Linked DNA regions of Homo sapiens. The protein of the gene in region 2 purifies or fractionates together with the protein of the main gene of each other region. This does not show direct contact. Each region holds a gene or a part of one and is shown on either strand. Other genes may lie near its edges.

What was found. Proteins that work in one complex are often made in the same cells at the same time.
Region 1: the proteins of MGAT1 (region 2) and GDPD5 purify together in Homo sapiens (co-immunoprecipitation; one large-scale study listed by IntAct). This does not show direct contact.

Annotation. Positions count from the first base shown.
Region 1 is NC_000011.10:75,515,942-75,519,441, forward strand, and holds part of GDPD5 (glycerophosphodiester phosphodiesterase domain-containing protein 5), read right to left. Parts: exon of another isoform or gene 3,074-3,500; intron 2,333-3,073; exon of another isoform or gene 2,275-2,332; intron 1,486-2,274; exon of another isoform or gene 1-1,485. UniProt on the Homo sapiens protein: Glycerophosphodiester phosphodiesterase that promotes neurite formation and drives spinal motor neuron differentiation.
Region 2 is NC_000005.10:180,789,307-180,792,806, reverse strand, and holds part of MGAT1 (alpha-1,3-mannosyl-glycoprotein 2-beta-N-acetylglucosaminyltransferase), read left to right. Parts: coding exon 1-1,173; 3' UTR 1,174-3,500. UniProt on the Homo sapiens protein: Initiates complex N-linked carbohydrate formation. Essential for the conversion of high-mannose to hybrid and complex N-glycans.

The sequences.
Region 1 (3,500 bases), on a different chromosome or scaffold from region 2:
GGGTATGGTAAAAACAGATGATCTTTAAACTGTGTCCTAAGGACAGTGTATTCAGTGGACTCCCGGGCTTTTGATGGACAGAGTGAGGAAGTGTCTTTGGTTTGCTTCTCCAGAGCCACTCTCTACCTTGTTTGGGGCCCTGGGAACTGACCTCTGTGGAATGTAATGGGCTCCATGCTGCTGGCTTTCAGAGAGGTACACCCAACAGGAAGCATAAATGGGGGACTGAAGGAAAGAGGAAAGATAGTTGAAGTTTATCCCCTGTGAGGTCTCCTGGGTTGACTGGGTCCCTGTACTGATGGCCCACAGCCCCTATCCCTATAGCTGCCCACTTCCCTTGCTCCTTCAGCCCTGAGTGGTAACTGCTCCCAGCCACTGCTAGTCCCTCGGTGCTGCACTATCCCGTGTTGATTTGTCACACGCCTAATGCCTGAGCCAGTCACTCTGGGTTGATGTACCCTCTCTGGCTGTGCCCAGGCAAGGAGACCAAGCACTGCCACTGATGGCCCCTTTTGTAGTCTTCCTCTGTCCAGTCCTCAGAGCCTCCTCTGGTCTTAAAGAAGAGCAGTTTGAAGGGATGCCCATGATTACATGTGCAGGCCTCCTCTGTCCTCTGTCTCAGCCTGGGCCTGGTGGGGCAAGGGGAGCAGACTGGGAGACAGGGAGCGTGGACCAGCCAGTGAAGGAAGGGGCAGGAGGCAGGGGTCAGCTCCCCAGCAAGTGCATGCACCAACAGCTCTTGAGTGCTTAGTTTACGGTAGGCACTGTGCTCCACATACCAGTAATTTTATTTGCTTCTCAGGTAATCCCAGGAAGTCCTTCCTACAAATGCATTTTATAGGAGAAACAACTCGTGCTCAAAGAGATAAAATGATTCTTCCAGGGTCATCCTGCCAGTAAGTGACAAAGCCAGGATCAACATAAGTTTTCTGTCTTCTGTATGGTAGACACGTTGGACAGTGATACCTGGACTTGAGCAAGCCCTGAGAATGACCTTGTATGGCAGGCGCACCTCAATGCAGTTTGGTTCTAAGCTAAGGAATCTGGGAGTAGCCAACCCGGAGATCCACTCCTTATCTATGAGGAACATCTGAGCTCTTGGCCCATCCTATGGAACTTGCGGGCCAAACAGAGGATTGAGGTCTGTGGTTTGGGGTAAATGGAGGTTGCTAGGTGGAAGTTGTTGGGGGAGGTGCTAAGTGAAAATGCTATAGAAATTGCAAGCTTTTAGGCTGGGGGGCGGTAGCTCACAGCTATAATCCCAGCACTTTGGGAGGCTGAGGCAGGCGGATCACCTGAAGTCAGGAGTTTGAGACCAGCCTAACCAACATAGCGAAACTCCATCTCTACTAAAAATACAAAATTAGCTGCGTGTGGTGGCACTTGCCTGTAATCCCAGCTACTTGGGAGGCTGAGGCAGGAGAATCGCTTGAACCTGGGAGGCGGAGGCTGCAGTGAGTGAAGATCGCGCCATTGCACTCCAGCCTGGGCAATAAGAACGAAACTCTGTCTCAAAAAAAAAAACCAAAACCAAAACCAAAAACAAAAAAACTGCACACTTCCTGCGAGTGGTTGTGGTTCTTCGGTCCAGCCAGCAGCCACTGGACTCTCTCCCCTGTGTGTGAGCCCGTAGTAAAACCCCATGGCTCATTCGCTGGCTCTGGGTCTCCTCTTTGGCCTCTTGAGCCTGGTGCCATCCTCACTGGCACTGATAGGGGTTTAGCTCAACACCTAGTAACTACCTTGAAATAATTTTAGTGAACTGGCTCACAATCACAGCAGAGTTGGATGACTTAAGTGGGGTCAATTATCGGTGAGGATTTGCACAGAGGCCTCCAATGTTCCCTGGACACCCTCCCCTAGATTAAAAAAAAAAATCCTCTGACATTCTTCAGTTCTCCCAGGTGGGACAGGGGCCCCAAGCAGGTGGTGCAGTTGGGTGTCCGGGTTGGAAAAACAAGCAGATTCAGACAAGGCTTCATTGTTAAGGAGAGTCTGACACTTTGACCATTAAAGCAAAACTGAGCAAAACAAAATGCTTACTGCCTTGTCTTATCTCTTAGAGAGAAAGGGGACAGTGGGAAGGGCCCCCGGGCTGGGTGTTGATCCCACCCTAACCAGCGCCAGTCTCAGAGACCTGGCCTCAGGTGGCTGGGGCAGGGAGTTCAGGGTCTCAGTCCAGCCCGGCGTCAGGTATGGGGTGGGTGCTTGCCATGTGTGGCCTCGTCTGGCCTCTGTGGCCCTTTCAGAGAGATCGTTATTGTCATTTTTCAGATGAGGAAACTGAGGCTCCGAGAAGACACGCAGGGAGCAGCTGCATGCTGGAACCCAGGTTAACTGGATTACCAAGTCTTCCCACTCCCCTCATCTCTCCAGGCAGGAAGGTCCTGGGGGGAGGAAGCAGCCTCGGAAGGAATGAGCTCCTTGTCCTGGGGATGTGCAAGTATTGTCTTGGGACACTGTGGGAGGTAGGCTGCAGAGGGCAGCCAGGTGGCTCTCAAACTGAAATCACCAGGGGAGCTTCATCAACTACTGATGCCTGGGTCATGCCCCAGAGATTGTGGGGCCTGCAGGACTTTTAAAAGTTTCCCAGATGATTCTAATGTGAAACAAAGTTTGAAAGCCATGGGCTTGGATGCCCACTGCTGCCCTTCCCACCTCTGAAACTCTCCTGCCACACGCCTTTCTAAGGAAAGAAGGGATTTATTACCCTGACCCCATTTTACAAAATGGGCAGAAGCCAAGCAAAATATAAGGGTGTCCTCAAGGCCCCACAGCCAGCAACAAATCGAGGCAGCATGAGGGGTCCCCTGATTTCAGACTGCCCCTGGGGTGAGCTTCTTTAAGACACTTGGGGGTTCCAGCTCCCTTGTCAGTGGGAGAGAAGTTTCTCTTTGAGCCTCCTGGGTGAGAGAGTGAGACATTCTTCGTGGCATTTTTTTTAAAGAGTCCACTCGTTCAAAAGCTAAACAGCTGCAGGATTAACGCTGGAAGACCCCCTCTGCTTGCTGGTGTGCCTTGGGAGCAAGAAGATAAAAGAACTCAAAGCAGGCCTGTTTATCCTTTTCTGCAGGAGATTTGGTCACAAGCCTGGGAAGAGCTGAGCCTGTCAGACCAGCAGCCCACACTTCCTCCCCACCTGCCTTTCCGCCTTCCTCATGCCCTGAAAGCAGAATGTCACAGATGGAGAGATGGTGTGGGTTGGTGGGAAGTGAGAGGCCTGTGGAGTCCACTGGTCCTGGGGTCTGCCCAAGCTCTCCTCCTTGCCAGCTACCTTTGGAGAGGAGCTACTCCTCTCTCAGCTCATTCAGTGCTGATCTCACAGAGGTCCAAAGTCAGCAACATGGGCACCACCTCCAGGAAGGCTTCCCTGACTCCCCTCCCCACCCAGCGCCGGGCAACCCCAGGCCCCTGGCCTTCCCTGTCACATTCTGTGTTGTCACTGCTTCTGTGTCCTCCCAACCCTACCAGGCTGTTCATTCATTCATTCCACGGAGCAG
Region 2 (3,500 bases):
CGCCTGGCCCAAGACGCCGAGGTGGAGCTGGAGCGGCAGCGTGGGCTGCTGCAGCAGATCGGGGATGCCCTGTCGAGCCAGCGGGGGAGGGTGCCCACCGCGGCCCCTCCCGCCCAGCCGCGTGTGCCTGTGACCCCCGCGCCGGCGGTGATTCCCATCCTGGTCATCGCCTGTGACCGCAGCACTGTTCGGCGCTGCCTGGACAAGCTGCTGCATTATCGGCCCTCGGCTGAGCTCTTCCCCATCATCGTTAGCCAGGACTGCGGGCACGAGGAGACGGCCCAGGCCATCGCCTCCTACGGCAGCGCGGTCACGCACATCCGGCAGCCCGACCTGAGCAGCATTGCGGTGCCGCCGGACCACCGCAAGTTCCAGGGCTACTACAAGATCGCGCGCCACTACCGCTGGGCGCTGGGCCAGGTCTTCCGGCAGTTTCGCTTCCCCGCGGCCGTGGTGGTGGAGGATGACCTGGAGGTGGCCCCGGACTTCTTCGAGTACTTTCGGGCCACCTATCCGCTGCTGAAGGCCGACCCCTCCCTGTGGTGCGTCTCGGCCTGGAATGACAACGGCAAGGAGCAGATGGTGGACGCCAGCAGGCCTGAGCTGCTCTACCGCACCGACTTTTTCCCTGGCCTGGGCTGGCTGCTGTTGGCCGAGCTCTGGGCTGAGCTGGAGCCCAAGTGGCCAAAGGCCTTCTGGGACGACTGGATGCGGCGGCCGGAGCAGCGGCAGGGGCGGGCCTGCATACGCCCTGAGATCTCAAGAACGATGACCTTTGGCCGCAAGGGTGTGAGCCACGGGCAGTTCTTTGACCAGCACCTCAAGTTTATCAAGCTGAACCAGCAGTTTGTGCACTTCACCCAGCTGGACCTGTCTTACCTGCAGCGGGAGGCCTATGACCGAGATTTCCTCGCCCGCGTCTACGGTGCTCCCCAGCTGCAGGTGGAGAAAGTGAGGACCAATGACCGGAAGGAGCTGGGGGAGGTGCGGGTGCAGTATACGGGCAGGGACAGCTTCAAGGCTTTCGCCAAGGCTCTGGGTGTCATGGATGACCTTAAGTCGGGGGTTCCGAGAGCTGGCTACCGGGGTATTGTCACCTTCCAGTTCCGGGGCCGCCGTGTCCACCTGGCGCCCCCACTGACGTGGGAGGGCTATGATCCTAGCTGGAATTAGCACCTGCCTGTCCTTCCTGGGCCCCTCCTTGCCACATCATGAGCTGAGGTGGGACCACAGTCCCCAGGCTGCATCGGCCTGCCTGTGTTTCCCTCTTAGGTGCATTTATCTTTTTGATTTTTCCGAGTGGCATTTAAGTGCACAAATGATAACAAGAGGATTATTCTCCCGTTCTCAAGGGAGTCAGATCAGGGGAACTATTCTAGGGTATGTTGCGGGGTATTAAGCAGGAAACCACTGTGTGGTGGGGGGCACTGGGCTTGTTGGGGCCAGAAATGTCCACGTCCTGAGCTTTCTCCTGGAGCATGTGCAGAGAGTTTGGCAACGTTCGCTCTCTTGACCAGACCCCTTCTCCCTGACCTGGCTCTTCCAGCCAGGGCACGAGCCCTCCTTCTATACCTGCTCCCCTTCCCCCAGTGGGGACTGAGTTATGGGAGAAGGGGACATATTTGTGGCCAAAATGATACTAACCAAAGGGGCTTCCTTGTCAGGGCCTGGTGGAGTTGGTGGGTCATCGGGGCTCACTGCCTCCTGCCCTTCTCTCCTGTCTGACCCCCACTTAGCCCTTCTCTCCTTGCAGCCTAGCAGTTTATAGTTCTGAGATGGAAAGTTGAAGGGGGCAAGCAAGACCTCTCCTCAGCCCATGCCCAGCTGTCAGGAGAGAGGTGCAGGGAGGAAGGCCTTGTGCTGGGACAACCTCTCTCTTGCCTTACCTCAGAGAGGGACTATGCCCTGACCCCTCCTTTCTGAAAATCAGTGCCCTCCCTGTTGCTCTAGGAGGCTCCTGCTGGCTTGGTAGAAGACAGAATTCGATCTGCCTGTCCCTTTTTCCCCTGGGGTTTGACACACAGGCTCCTCTCAGCATGAGGTGGAGCAGTGACCAGGTGGAGCAGTGACCAGGACGCCTCTGGCCCAGTGCTGCCCAGCCTCCCCGCCCGCTCCCAGGCGCCCCATGTCCTCACAGGCCAGGACGCCATGGCAGGATGGAGAGGACTTGGTGGATTTTTGTTTCTTGCCTGACCTCAGTTTCATGAAAGAAAGTGGAAGCTACAGAATTATTTTCTAAAATAAAGGCTGAATTGTCTGAAAAATATTTATGTGTGTGTGTCCTGGAAAAGGAGGTGGCAGGCAGGGAAAGAAAGGAAAAGGGAGAATGAAGAGTTAAGGAGAGGGCTAGACGGGTGGGAGGAAGCAAAGTTGAGGAAAGAAAGCAGATGAGTGGGAGGGAAGAGCCAGGGACAGCCCAGGGGATGGGGGCCAGGTGGGAAAGGAAGTCCAGGCCACAAGGTGGAGAGGAGCCCCGGACTGTGCTCCTGCTGATCGTCCTGTAGAGCCAGGAGGCCGCAGCAGGAAAGCTGGTGAGTGTCTCCTGCTTCTGCCTCCTGCTGGCTGGGCAGGCCTGGTCTGGGGAAGAACCAGGTCCTCTGATCAGGGTGGTCCCTGAGTGGTGCTTTGTGCCCGGTGCCCTCTGCTGGCCCAGGCAGTGCTTATTGAGTGCCCTTTATGACGTGCCGGGGAGCCTCAGGGTACACAGCTGATACCAGGGTTGGCCTCACAGTGGCGCTTGGACTCCCAAACGCAACCCCAGTGAGAGTGCCTGTTTTGCTAATACCCAGAACACAGACAGACTGTTACCTCTGCATATCACGTGCAACATTCTGAGAGTTTCTGTTCTCCACTAATTCATTTAAAAGAACAAAACGCGGCCGGGCGCAGTGGCTTACACATGTAATCCCAGCACTTTGGGAGGCTGAGGCGGACGGATCACGAAGTCAGGAGTTCGGGACCATCCTGGCCAACATGGTGAAACCTAAAAATACTCTACTAAAAATACAAAAACTTGCTGGGCATGGTGGCACACACCTGTAATCCCAGCTACTCAGGAAGCTGAGGCTGGAGAATCACTTGAACCCGGGAGGCAGAGGTTGCAGTAATCCAAGATCATACCACTGCACTCCAGCCTGGGCGACAGAGCAAGACTCTGTCTCGGAAAAACAAAACGCTTTTTGTGACTCACGAACTTGATTTCATGAGTGGGTTTGAAAACCCTGGGCTAGTCCAGGCGCGGTGGCTCACGCCTGTAATCCCAGTACTTTGGGAGGCTGAGGCGGGTGGATCACTTCAGGAGTTTGAGACCAGCCTGGCTAACATGGTGAAACCCCATCTCTACTAAAAATACAAAAATTAGCTGGGTGTGGTGGCACATGCCTGTAATTCCAGCTACTTGGGAGGCTGAGGCAGGAGAATTGCTTGAACCCGGGACGGGGTGGTTGCAGTGACCTGAGATCGCACCACTGCACTCCAGCCTGGGCGGTAAGAGCGAAACT